Linked DNA regions of Homo sapiens: region 1 is linked to region 2. Evidence: fine-mapped expression QTL. A gene starts in region 2. The other region holds a variant in brackets. All regions are shown on one strand. Distances are between the middles of the regions.

Region 1 (5,382 bases), 38 kb after region 2:
AGTGATAACATTGTTGCCTTGTGAAAATTACAAATGATTAAAACTTTGGCTACAGCAAGAACAGCAGTCAACAGGTTTTCTGCATAATTCGGACTGCTCAGTTCAGTGTTTACCCAAAAGGGCTTCATAATTTGAAACAGTCCCTTCCTCTGGCTCTCCTTGGAAGATACTCCCTTGAAGATATTATCTGTAGAAATGAAAGCTTGATGACTGAGAGTTTGAACTCAAGGTTGAAACTCCCCCAAAGCAGGGCTGTGTAGCACTGGCAGAGACGGTGAGAATTTAAGCCCTTTGCATAAATGTTTACTAAACAAGTGAAACTGATCTTGGCTGCATGATAGTACCTGCTCTTTGAGGTGTGCTTATGAAGATCATAAGCATCTCAGGGGCCACATCTATGTGCCAGGTCACAGGAGCAAAATCAGGAGTCTTTGGAGTGCCATTGTGAATGATTGCCTTTGTTGGTTTAATGCTTTTTAAAACATTCATTTATGGCACTTAATGGCTTTTAAAAGTCTTTTCATTGTAGAAATTGTAAGCATACACAAAAATGGGAAAGTATTATACAATGAACCCCATAGATCCATCACCCAGCTTCAACAGTTATCAACACGTTACCATTCTTGTTTCATTTTTCTCTCCTTCACTGCCCCTACCCCAAACAAACACACTTTTTTTGTGTTCATGCTAGATTTTATGTTTTTAATGCCTTTTTTTCGATGATAAAACTACTTTATGTTCATTGTGGAAAAGACATAATAGTTCAAAGTCAATTTTTAAAATGAGTGATTACATTGAAATTGTGAATCACAGCATAAAGTAGGAGAGAGAACTCAGCAATGATGGTGACTTCTTCCAGTCCAGACTGTTTTTACCTTTCTCAAGTCTTAAGGTTTCTTTTCCCCATCTAAATTTCTGCTGTGGTCCCTGTGTGAACTCCTGAGCCTAGCTGCCCCACCTGCAGGCGAATAATCCTAGCTGTCAACCCCCCCAGGAAGGGGATGCTGTCTGCTTGGTCACGTCTTGGCTAGGACATCTTTTCATGAAAAGACAGTTTGTGAGGAGAGATGTGCTCACCATCAGGGTTCTGTTATCACAGGGGACTCCCCTTCCCAGGTCATCCCCTTTTTCTCTCTGGTTGAGATGATCTGTGACTTCCTGGTCCTCCCTGTCCGTGCAGGCAGAGGCTGCCTCTCTCAGAACAGCTCTGATTGTCGTGTGACAGCCAAACATCAAGCCATGGGACAGGCTGGCCCTCACACAGCCTCATAGGCTTGGCCTGGAGCCTGAGCCTGCTGTCCTCAAGACAGCATCACTCCTGCTCCTCTGATACAGCACAAGGATCTAAACTTCCCCCAGTGCCTCGGATCAGGAGGCCAGCTGTGGTTATAGTCATGGACAGATGTGGAGGGGTCACACCTGTGTGTATCTAGCCCTAGCCCTACTGTAATCGAGTACTAGGAGGGAGGAAGAAAATGAATAAAAGAGAGGACCTGATGCCTGCCCTCCTTGACAACAAAGGTCTTTCTGTGTCGTAGGTGTTCTGTGTGGGTCAGCTTGTCTGTGCTGTGCTTGCCGATTCTGAGGTTCAGGCAAAGCGAGCTGCTAAGCGAGTGAAGATTGTCTATCAAGACTTGGAGCCGCTGATACTAACAATTGAGGTAATGAGTTCTGTGGAATGGTGGTGCCAGTTGGGAGCCAGAACAAATATCAGTTAAAATGCTTTTGGCTACTGTAACAGGAAAATGTGGCTCAAAGTGGCCTCCAAAGCACACGGACTTTATTAACCTCTAACCAGTCTCAGTATTAACAATTTCCCCAAGGACATGGCTTCTTTTTGCCACTCTTCTCTGCTGCCCACAATACAAGCTCAATTCCTGTGGTCACACAGATGGCCGCCAGGACAACCTGGACTTCCTTGTTCATGTTCAAGGAGTAAGAGGAACCCTATTGCCCCAGCATTCTAAGCACAAATCCTGAGATCCAGCCTAATTAAGCCACTTAGGTCACATATCCATCTCCAAATTAATGACTGGCAGAGGAATGGAGGAGCTGTTGGTTACTTCTAGGGGTAGGAGTTGGGGTCAGGTTTCTCTGAAGTAAGTGGGCTATGTAGGGGAGTGTAGGAAACTGAAACAAATCTGAGCCCTGTTTGGAAAGGGAAAGGGGAGGGGATGCTAGATGGGAAACAGTGATGTCCAGGAAAGTGGATCCACTCTATGACTTTTTACCCACCTTCACCCAGGCACATGGTGAGGACCAACAGGATGTTCCATGAAGTGAGTGTCAGAGACACGATTTTTAGATTTTTCAAGAGATAAGTCGTATGATGCCTACAGGTATTTTGGCAACTTAAACTGGAGAATTGCATTTTCTATCCTGATTTTTAGAAAGGAGTTGAAAATTTATAAAGGCTATA[A/C]GACTCATCTCCATGAAATGATAGGATGTTCTCTTGTGTGCATTCCATTGGTTCTTATAATTTCCTGGATGATGAAAGAATGAACACTGGGGAGGCAGTGTAAATAGATGAGACTCAGTCCATACAGGCCGCATGTGCTCTGGGACACAATATTAGCTTCACAGCATAATGAACATGTTGTTCTCTGGGTGACCGGCATGGCCTGAGGCAGAATTGAGGAAACAACCTGGGCACGATCAGTGTCTCCAGGAGAACTGGGTGTTGGGGGTGCTTCTTGCCATGCTGCTTGATGCTTAGGAACATGGAGTTTGTCTCTGGGAATTTTTCTTACATTTTAAAATAAAAATAAAATCATGTCAAATAGACAAAAACGTAGAAGTCTAATTGGAGTCGAAGTGTGATTAGGCCTCCCAAATTTTCCTGGCCAGTTTCAAATTCAAACACTCTGTTCCCTTCTCAGGCCCTTTTCATTTACATGTTGCATGCTGCTCTTGCTTCATATATTCTGTCCCCTGAAGTTTGCTGGAGAGTTAGAATTACTTATTAGAAATTATTTACGTAACACTTCATCAATATTTTGTTTATAAATCTTTGCCCAATATCAGGGGCTAAATATCTACTCTCCACTCCCCCTACCTTCCAGCCAAATAAAAGCCCCAATAAGCAAATATAATAGATGCCACTCCCCCCACCCTCACCACTTCAACCAGCAGACTCGTGATTGTCTGCCAGAGAATCCCAGCATCAGATACAAGCTCTGGCTTTGTGGAAAAGAGTTGCCTCACATTGTGTTCAGAGATTAAGCTCTCAAAGTCTAAAGATCATCAACTGGATCAGAGCAAATTTAATCAAAGTTTAGAGCAGGGAAATATGCCCCTCTCCCTATACATTACAGTTCTTTTATCACTTTCCTGACTAAGAAAAATTCAGAAAATTGGCTCAAAGTTATTCAAAGAGCAAGCAGCCAGTGAAGTTGAAAAAGATGAAACTTTTAAAAATAGGATTTATAAAACCTAGCTTTTTTTTCAACCTGGAATCTCTTTAATCTTAGATTAATAAGAAAAGCACATGAACAGATTCCAATAGGAAGTGTGTTATCAATCAAAATAGAACAAAAACAAATATATCTCTGTCACTATCACAAAGATTTAATCTGGCACATGCTTTTCGAGTTTTTAGTAGATTGAATGGGGCAACGATCAAAACTCTTGAATCAAGGGGTAAGGCTGATGACCATAATGGAAAAAAATGTGTTCCCTACCGGAATCTGTCCTGAATAATAATCATCAACAACAACATGAGCATAGCTAGGACCTATACAGAGCTCACTGTGTGGTCAACATGGTTCTAGGTCAGTTTCACACATTAACTTACTAAATGCTCACCACAATCCTATGAGGCAAAAACTATTTTTATCCCCATTCTGATGGGGAAACTAAAAGGCAGGGTTACCCAAGGTTACATAGCTAGTCAGTAACAAAAACAATCAACAAACACTCTGTCAAAGAACCTGGGCCCCACCGGTGCTATAAACAAACCAACCCAGTTTTTGAATGGGGGAAATGGCAGAATCACAATAGCCCATCCCTCTAAGGGGTGTTGTCTAGACACCTACTGGTGGCCAGAAGGAAACAGAGATAAGAGAATCCCCAACTACCAACAGAATGGAATTTCATGGATGGACAATAACCCACAGTAGATAATGCCAGCAGGAGCTGGCACACCACATTTGCCAGTGGACACATGGATTACTGCAAGATAAATTCTCAGGGATAGCTAAAAACCAACCTATGTTATTGTAACTACATCTCTGGTTTTGTGCACCACTGTACCCTTTTACTGGGCACCCAGGGAGAGCCAATAGGAGCTAGTGTATAAATGGATTTGTACACCCAGCTCCCAGACAGGGCTTGTCTGAAATCTTACTTCCAGAGCTGGAGGTCCCAGGTGCTCTACTGCCCTGTGCAAATGAAATGCTCATCCCCACAAAGAAGGAATATGGGGCTGGCAGGCAGAGCCACCATGATCCCAATCACTAGAGTCTTTTCAACTAGCAATTATTGAGTGTTTACTATATGCAATATAAGCTCTTCACGTCTTATTTCATTTTATCTTCACCAACCACGATCCTATTGGAGCTATATGCACACCTGTTACTTCCATTTTACAGACAATGATAAGAGAGGTGAAGTGATAGGCCCACAGTCAAAGCTGGTAAGTGGGAAAAATGTGTGCACAATGCTGACTGGGTCTAGAGCCCAGGCTCTGAAGCCCTGTGCTGTATGGCCTTGGCTACATGAAATGGATTGTGGTGTGCAGACAATAACCTGCCTGGAAAATACTAGTTTCATTCTGGGATCACTTAGATGCCAGTTTTTTTCTGTGCATATTATTTCTTCAGACTCAGTAGGCACATTTACATTTCCTCACTGGGGAGTCTCTCTGCAGTTGGATTCTTAGCTTGGCTCACCAGGGTCATGGTGAAAGTGCACGGAACCACAAGGTGAAGGGAGAAACAACCCCTGCTCAGAGGATGTGCAGTGGGGTGTGTCTGCTGCCCTAGGGCAGGGTCTCTTGCCCAAGCTGCCTCATTCCTCTGTTCTCTTTCTAGGAAAGTATACAACACAACTCCTCCTTCAAGCCAGAAAGGAAACTGGAATATGGAAATGTTGACGAAGCATTTAAAGTGGTTGATCAAATTCTTGAAGGTAAAAAGTAATGGAAGAGTAAACAACCCTGGAAGTCTTCTAAGCATGTCAGTTTAAGGCTTCCTTTGTCTTCTGGAAATCATCGGGCAGCCTAGGGGGGTGTTGCTCCTCAGGAACAGGCAGAACAGGCACCTCATTCACAAATGTGTTTCCCTCCGTCTCTGGGGTAGGCCAAGAGCCAATGGGGAGGCAAAAGAGGAGGCAAGACCCTGCCCCTCTTCCCTGACCCCCCTTCCCTCATCAAGGCTCCAGTTG
Region 2 (5,382 bases):
AATACATGTTGAATGTCAGCTTCTGTATTATTTCTATTATATGTAATCTGATGACTTAGAGGAGGAGATTAACCTTTCAGGCTCTTTTGAATTTGGTTTTTATAATTTGGTTTTAAAGATCACTTACTCTTCCAGTAATAAGTAGTAATAAATCCTGTTCATATCTGAGATCAATACACAGTTTATTGAATTCAAATGACTACTCAAACTCTATTCCACCTAGATGGAAAACTTTTTTAGACAATATCTGACCACTAACGCGGTGGGCCCAGAAATCTGCATCTTAATCAGATGCTTCAGGTGAGTCCGTCCGAGGATTGTCCTAGTACCACACTTTGAGAGACTGCAGTGGGGGTACAGAGTGCTGGAGGGGTTTAGTCAATAGCTCTAGTGAAGGATGGATAGTTTTATTCAAAGAATCCCAGTTGATGAATGAAGAAGAAATGCTAGAATTAGAAAAATTGCAAACCCCTATTAAAACTACCGCTCAGGCAATGCTCAACAATGGATGTAAAACAATTAGGTGAAATGTTGATGGAGAAATTCATTACAAAGGAATAGCCCTCTGAACCCACTGATCAATGTTAGCATCATTACGAATGAAACAACCAGACACCATATGCTTCCTGCTGTGCTGCAATATTAATTATATGGTACCACCTATGAAGTGTTCTTGCCCTCTCCCCCCCAAAAAATTGAACCTGAATTTAATCAAAGCTTTAGATCTAATATTTAGTGCATAGGAAATAAGTAGAGTAGAAAAACAATACCAGGGAGAAGCAATTAGCCACATTCAAAAAATGGTTCATTTCAATAGAACAACTGACCTGGTTTCTTTTTCAATGTGTTAATAGTGTTAAAAAGTCTGTTTTAGATCAAAAGAGACTGATGAGACCACATGCAAATACATTGCACAGCTCTTGTTTGATTCAAAGAAGTCAAGTGTAAAAGACATTTTTTAGACACGTGAAATGGTGTTGCGGCTGACTAAAAGGATGTGTATGTGTGTTTTTGAAGTATTTAGGGCTAAAATATGTCCAGGATTGGCTTTTAAATACTACAAAAAATGGAGTATGCCAAAACGTTGACCATTGTTAAAGCTCAGTGAAGGGCAGGTAGATGCCAATTGCACTCTTCACTTTTATGTGCAAAGTTTGGAAAATTTCACAATAAAATTTTTGTGTTTACATAAATGAAATAACATGGGAAAATGTTCTAAGGTATGGCAAGTGAAAAAAGCCTGGAAAATAACTAGTTTGTCCCACTTAAGTTTTTAAAGGTGTTAAAAGTACATGTTTCAAAAAGTAAGGATAGACTAAAAAAGTGAACGGTGGTAAGTTCTAAGTTGTGGGCTTACAGGTGTTCTTTATTTTTATGCTTTGCTGTATTTTCCAAGTTTTTTTTTTTAAGTTTTCCAAGATGTTTTACATCTCTGTTCTTATTTACCAGATAAACTTTGTGGTTAGTTACTGGATAAACTGTAAATAGTGATAAAATTTTTAAGTTTATATCAAGATAGCACTTCATTTTAAAACCAGTAATTATTAGGTTGGTGCAAAATTAATTGCAGTTGTTGCCATTGGAAGTGATGGTAAAAACCGCAATTACTTTTGCACCAACCTTATATTTCTAAAAGATCAAGTTGTAAACCTATTTGTTTTCCCTAAGATCCGCTCTTGCAGAGTTGGAATAAATATGATTGTTTACACTTAAGAGTCCAGGACTACAGCAGGCCTGGTTGGAGGGGAGTTACTAATGTTCCCAGACTTAAATCCAGCTGGAACACCACCTAAAATATGCAGTAACATAAGACCATCAAAAGCAATGTCCCAGGACTTACAATGTTTGCTAAGACGCAAGAGGGTGTGACACAGACGCTAAGCGCCACTGGCGAGGAGATGAAGGGGTCGTCTTCATCTTCGCCGGATGATTTCCGCCCACATAGAGGGCGCCAGTGACGCCCACACACGTGCTGGTGTCCCGGGAAGAGTTCCTGGCAAAGAGCTCAGGAACGTTGGATCTTAATCAAGGCTTTCTCCGTCGGGGTGGATGGGTTGGACTTTAGGCTCCAGCAAGCCCCGCCCCACTCGGCGGGTCGGTGCCGCCGGGTCCCAGGTGCCCGCTACTTCCCAGAACCTCCGCCTCCCGCTCCGGGCCCTCGAACCAGCGCGGACACCACAATGGACCGGGCGTCCGAGCTGCTCTTCTACGTGAACGGCCGCAAGGTGAGCGCCCGCGGGCTTCCTCTGCCCCCAGACCTGCGGCCAGGGCCGGGGCAGAGAGGAGCCCCTGCCGTTCGTCCCATCCTTTCGTGCCCGCCGTTTAAGGCACTCAGGCACGGACTGGCTTTCTCCCGTAACAGCGGCTTTGCCTTCGCATTCCCACCCCTGCCTCCGGGGCAGCTAAAGGCTGCGTTTTCAGGGACTGTCCTGGATCTTTGGGCCCCCACCTTCCTTATGTTCCCCTTTCCTCTCCTTCCAAGGCTCACAAGCTGATTTCCAACCACACGCCCTCCCTAAACAGTAAGATAAAAAGTATTCTTGCCCATCAGGGGTCAGCACTCCCAGATCTTCGTTCCCTCAATCCCAGCCGATAACGGGAACGTCCCCAGTACACTGAGAGCAGCCTACAGAAATGGCTGAGCCTCAGCTCGCGGGGTGCGTTTGGAAGCGCAGAGAGCAACTTAGATTCGGGACAAGACCGTAGAGACGAACACATTCAAACCACCCCCATCGTTTCTCAGATGAAGAAATCGTTACTTTCCAAAGTCACAGCTAGTTCCTGGCAGAGCTGAACCCAAGTCAGGCTCTGGGGGCTCCAAGGTCCTCACGGGTTCCACTGCTGGGTGCGGGCTCTGTCGCCTCAGAAGCTGGGCTCGCTCTGCGCAACCCGAGGGACAGTTCCAGGCAGTGTCCGATGTTTGGGAGAAGCAAAGCCCCCTGGGCATCCTTTAAAACACCCCCCTTAATGTGAGCATCAACTCTGCTCACTCTTAATGTTCCAGTTTCATTGACATTACTCTGAAGGAGGAAACTGAGGCAGGAAGGTTAAGGAGCTCCCTTGAGAGCTGTGGCTCACGCCTGTAATCTGCACTTTGGGAGACCGAGGCAGGAGGATTGCTTGAGCCCAGGAGTTCGAGTTTAGCCTGGGCAACATGGCGAAACCTTGTCTCTACAAAAAAAAAACCAAACAAAACAAAACAACAACAACAAAAAAAAACCGGTGTGGTGGTGCGTGCCTGCAGCCCAGCTACTGGGGAGGGTGAAGGAGGATTGCTTGAGTCTAGGAGTTCAAGGTTACAGTGAGCTGTGATCACACCACTGCACTCCAGCTTGGACAAAAGAGTGAGATCCTATTTCTTAAAAACAACAAAAACAGAGCTAACAACCAAGCAAGAGCAGTGGCACCTGATTTCCCTGGTGCTCGTGTTGGTGCCGGTTCATTCAGAGCCACCTGTGACCACTGCTTCTGGCTAAGGGCAGCCACAACACTTTTCCCGACGGGCACCAGCTGCCTCCCCTGGAAGCTAACCAGTGTGAAGCACCAGGCCCTAGTTGTGAGGCCTGTTCTAAGACCCTGAGCCTAATTTCATTTGTGGTTTTGTATTATGTTTCTTAAAGAGGATCCCCCAAATTGTACATTAGGCCCCTCAAAAACTTTGTCTGCCCCTGCTGCCTGGGTTCTACATTGGATAAGATGAGCTAGTTTTTCCTGATCTGTAAGGGTCATTAGGACCCCTTCACAGGACTGCTGTGAGGGTGAAATATGACAATGGGGTGAGATGATTGACATTATGTCATTTTTTTCTTCTTTTGCATAATAGAATGGTATAGTAAACACAACACTGGCTTTGTTGTTTAGACAAACAAGTCTTCAATTCCAATTCTAATTCTGATTGAGAAAACCTAACCTCTCAGAGGCCCAGTTTCTCTGTTAAAAGGGGATCATACCACTTACTTCATAAAGAGTGATCATGAGCATTCAATCCACTTATTTGTTAAGGGCCTACCGTATGCCAGTCAGTGTTCCAGGCTTATGAGATACAGCAGAGCACAGAAATAACAAGTCCTTGCGTGCATGGAGCTTACATTGTGCTGGGGAGATAGCAAGCATATAAATACGTGGAAATGTGTAATGTCAGGAAGTGAGAAGTGCTAATATAAAAAATAAAGCACAGCGTGGGGACAGAGAGTATGCAGGATACTTAGAGGGGATGGATGTTTTGGCCTGTCTGAAAGGGTGGCATTTGAGCAGTGACTGGGATGCAGTGAGGAGCAAGCCATGCAAACATCTGGGGAGACAGCATCCAGGCAGTGGGAATGGCAGGTGCAAAGGTCCTGAGGTAGGAGGATTTCTGTGTGCTTAAGGAGGTAGGTTGGTGGGCCTGGCAACATGGGCAGTGGCCTGATTACTAGGGCTTTATAGGTGATGGTAAGGGTTTGGGTTAAATGAAGAAACAGGGATTGTGAGTCTAACATCTCCTCGCTTCTCCTTCCCCCACTTCCAAACAAATATTGGTATTTTTAACATAATGGCCAACAAGTTTGTGCTCTATTGATTTTTAAAATTAGATAAGCTAGTTCTTATCTACGGACTCACTTTGTCTATGGGCCAAATGTCCTGTGGTTATTTGTAAAGTATAATCTGGAGATATTGATTCTGTTTTTGCAATTACCCATTAGAAGAAATTGTGTTAATCTTTCCCTTTCCTTCTCCTCCCTTCTAAATTCTGTTAGGTGTGTGCTTCGGTACTTAATAAACAAGCCTGATTACTTACATGGAAAGAACTAGAATAAGCTTTTTTTTTTTTTTTTTTTTTGAGATCGAGTCTCACTCTGTTGCCTCCTGAGTAGCTGGGACTATGAAACTGCAAGCACCCACCACCACGCTAATTTTTGTATTTTTAGTAGAGATGGGGTTTCACTATGTTGGCCAAGCTGGTCTCAAACTCCTGACCCCAGGTGATCTCCCTGACTCGGCCTCCCAAAGTGCTGGGATTACAGGCTTGAGCCACTGTGCCCAGCCTAGCATAAACTTTTTCGTTCCAGAGAGTAAGGGATTGTTGAGAAGAGTGTGAGAGAAAATCCACCCTAGAAGAGGGCTTTTGAAGTCAAACACAATCTCTGGAATTAAAAACTCACCTTTGAAAAAGAAGCTTAGAAGTGAAGCCACTTAGGAGAAAATAGGTGACATGATTGGCTTCTATTCTGCTTTTTGCTAAATTTTCTCAGGTCACCAAAAGTTGTCCTCAGGCAGAAGGTAACGACATCTGGAGGCAAGGACAGCGCACGTTGGCCAGGGACCTAGTTGCAGAGAGATTTCTGAAATCTTATTCACTCTACCAAGGCCCCCAGAAGAACAGATGACCCATTTAACATGGAG

Direction of the effects. Alleles are on the strand shown, and positions count from the first base shown. SD is a standard deviation of normalised expression in the study named.
With allele A in place of C in region 1, the expression in fibroblasts of the gene that starts at base 2,086 in region 2 is lower (moderate effect, 0.43 SD a copy in GTEx).

Evidence for each region. PIP is the estimated chance that this variant, and not a neighbour inherited with it, causes the effect.
Region 1: its variant is fine-mapped to the expression of AOX1 in fibroblasts (GTEx, PIP above 0.99).

Annotation. Positions count from the first base shown.
Region 1 is chr2:200,622,323-200,627,704 of GRCh38, forward strand. AOX1 (aldehyde oxidase 1) reads left to right here. Exons shown (of 35, transcript NM_001159.4): 19 at 1,539-1,661; 20 at 5,031-5,127. Among named protein-coding and RNA genes, the nearest start is that of AOX1, 39 kb to the left of the region's middle. The variant A/C (reference allele first, on the strand shown) is at 2,420.
Region 2 is chr2:200,583,929-200,589,310 of GRCh38, forward strand. It overlaps AOX1 (aldehyde oxidase 1), which reads left to right and starts at 2,086. Exons shown (of 35, transcript NM_001159.4): 1 at 2,086-2,225. The coding sequence starts at 2,181. It overlaps SGO2 (shugoshin 2), which reads left to right. Exons shown (of 9, transcript NM_152524.6): 9 at 1-168.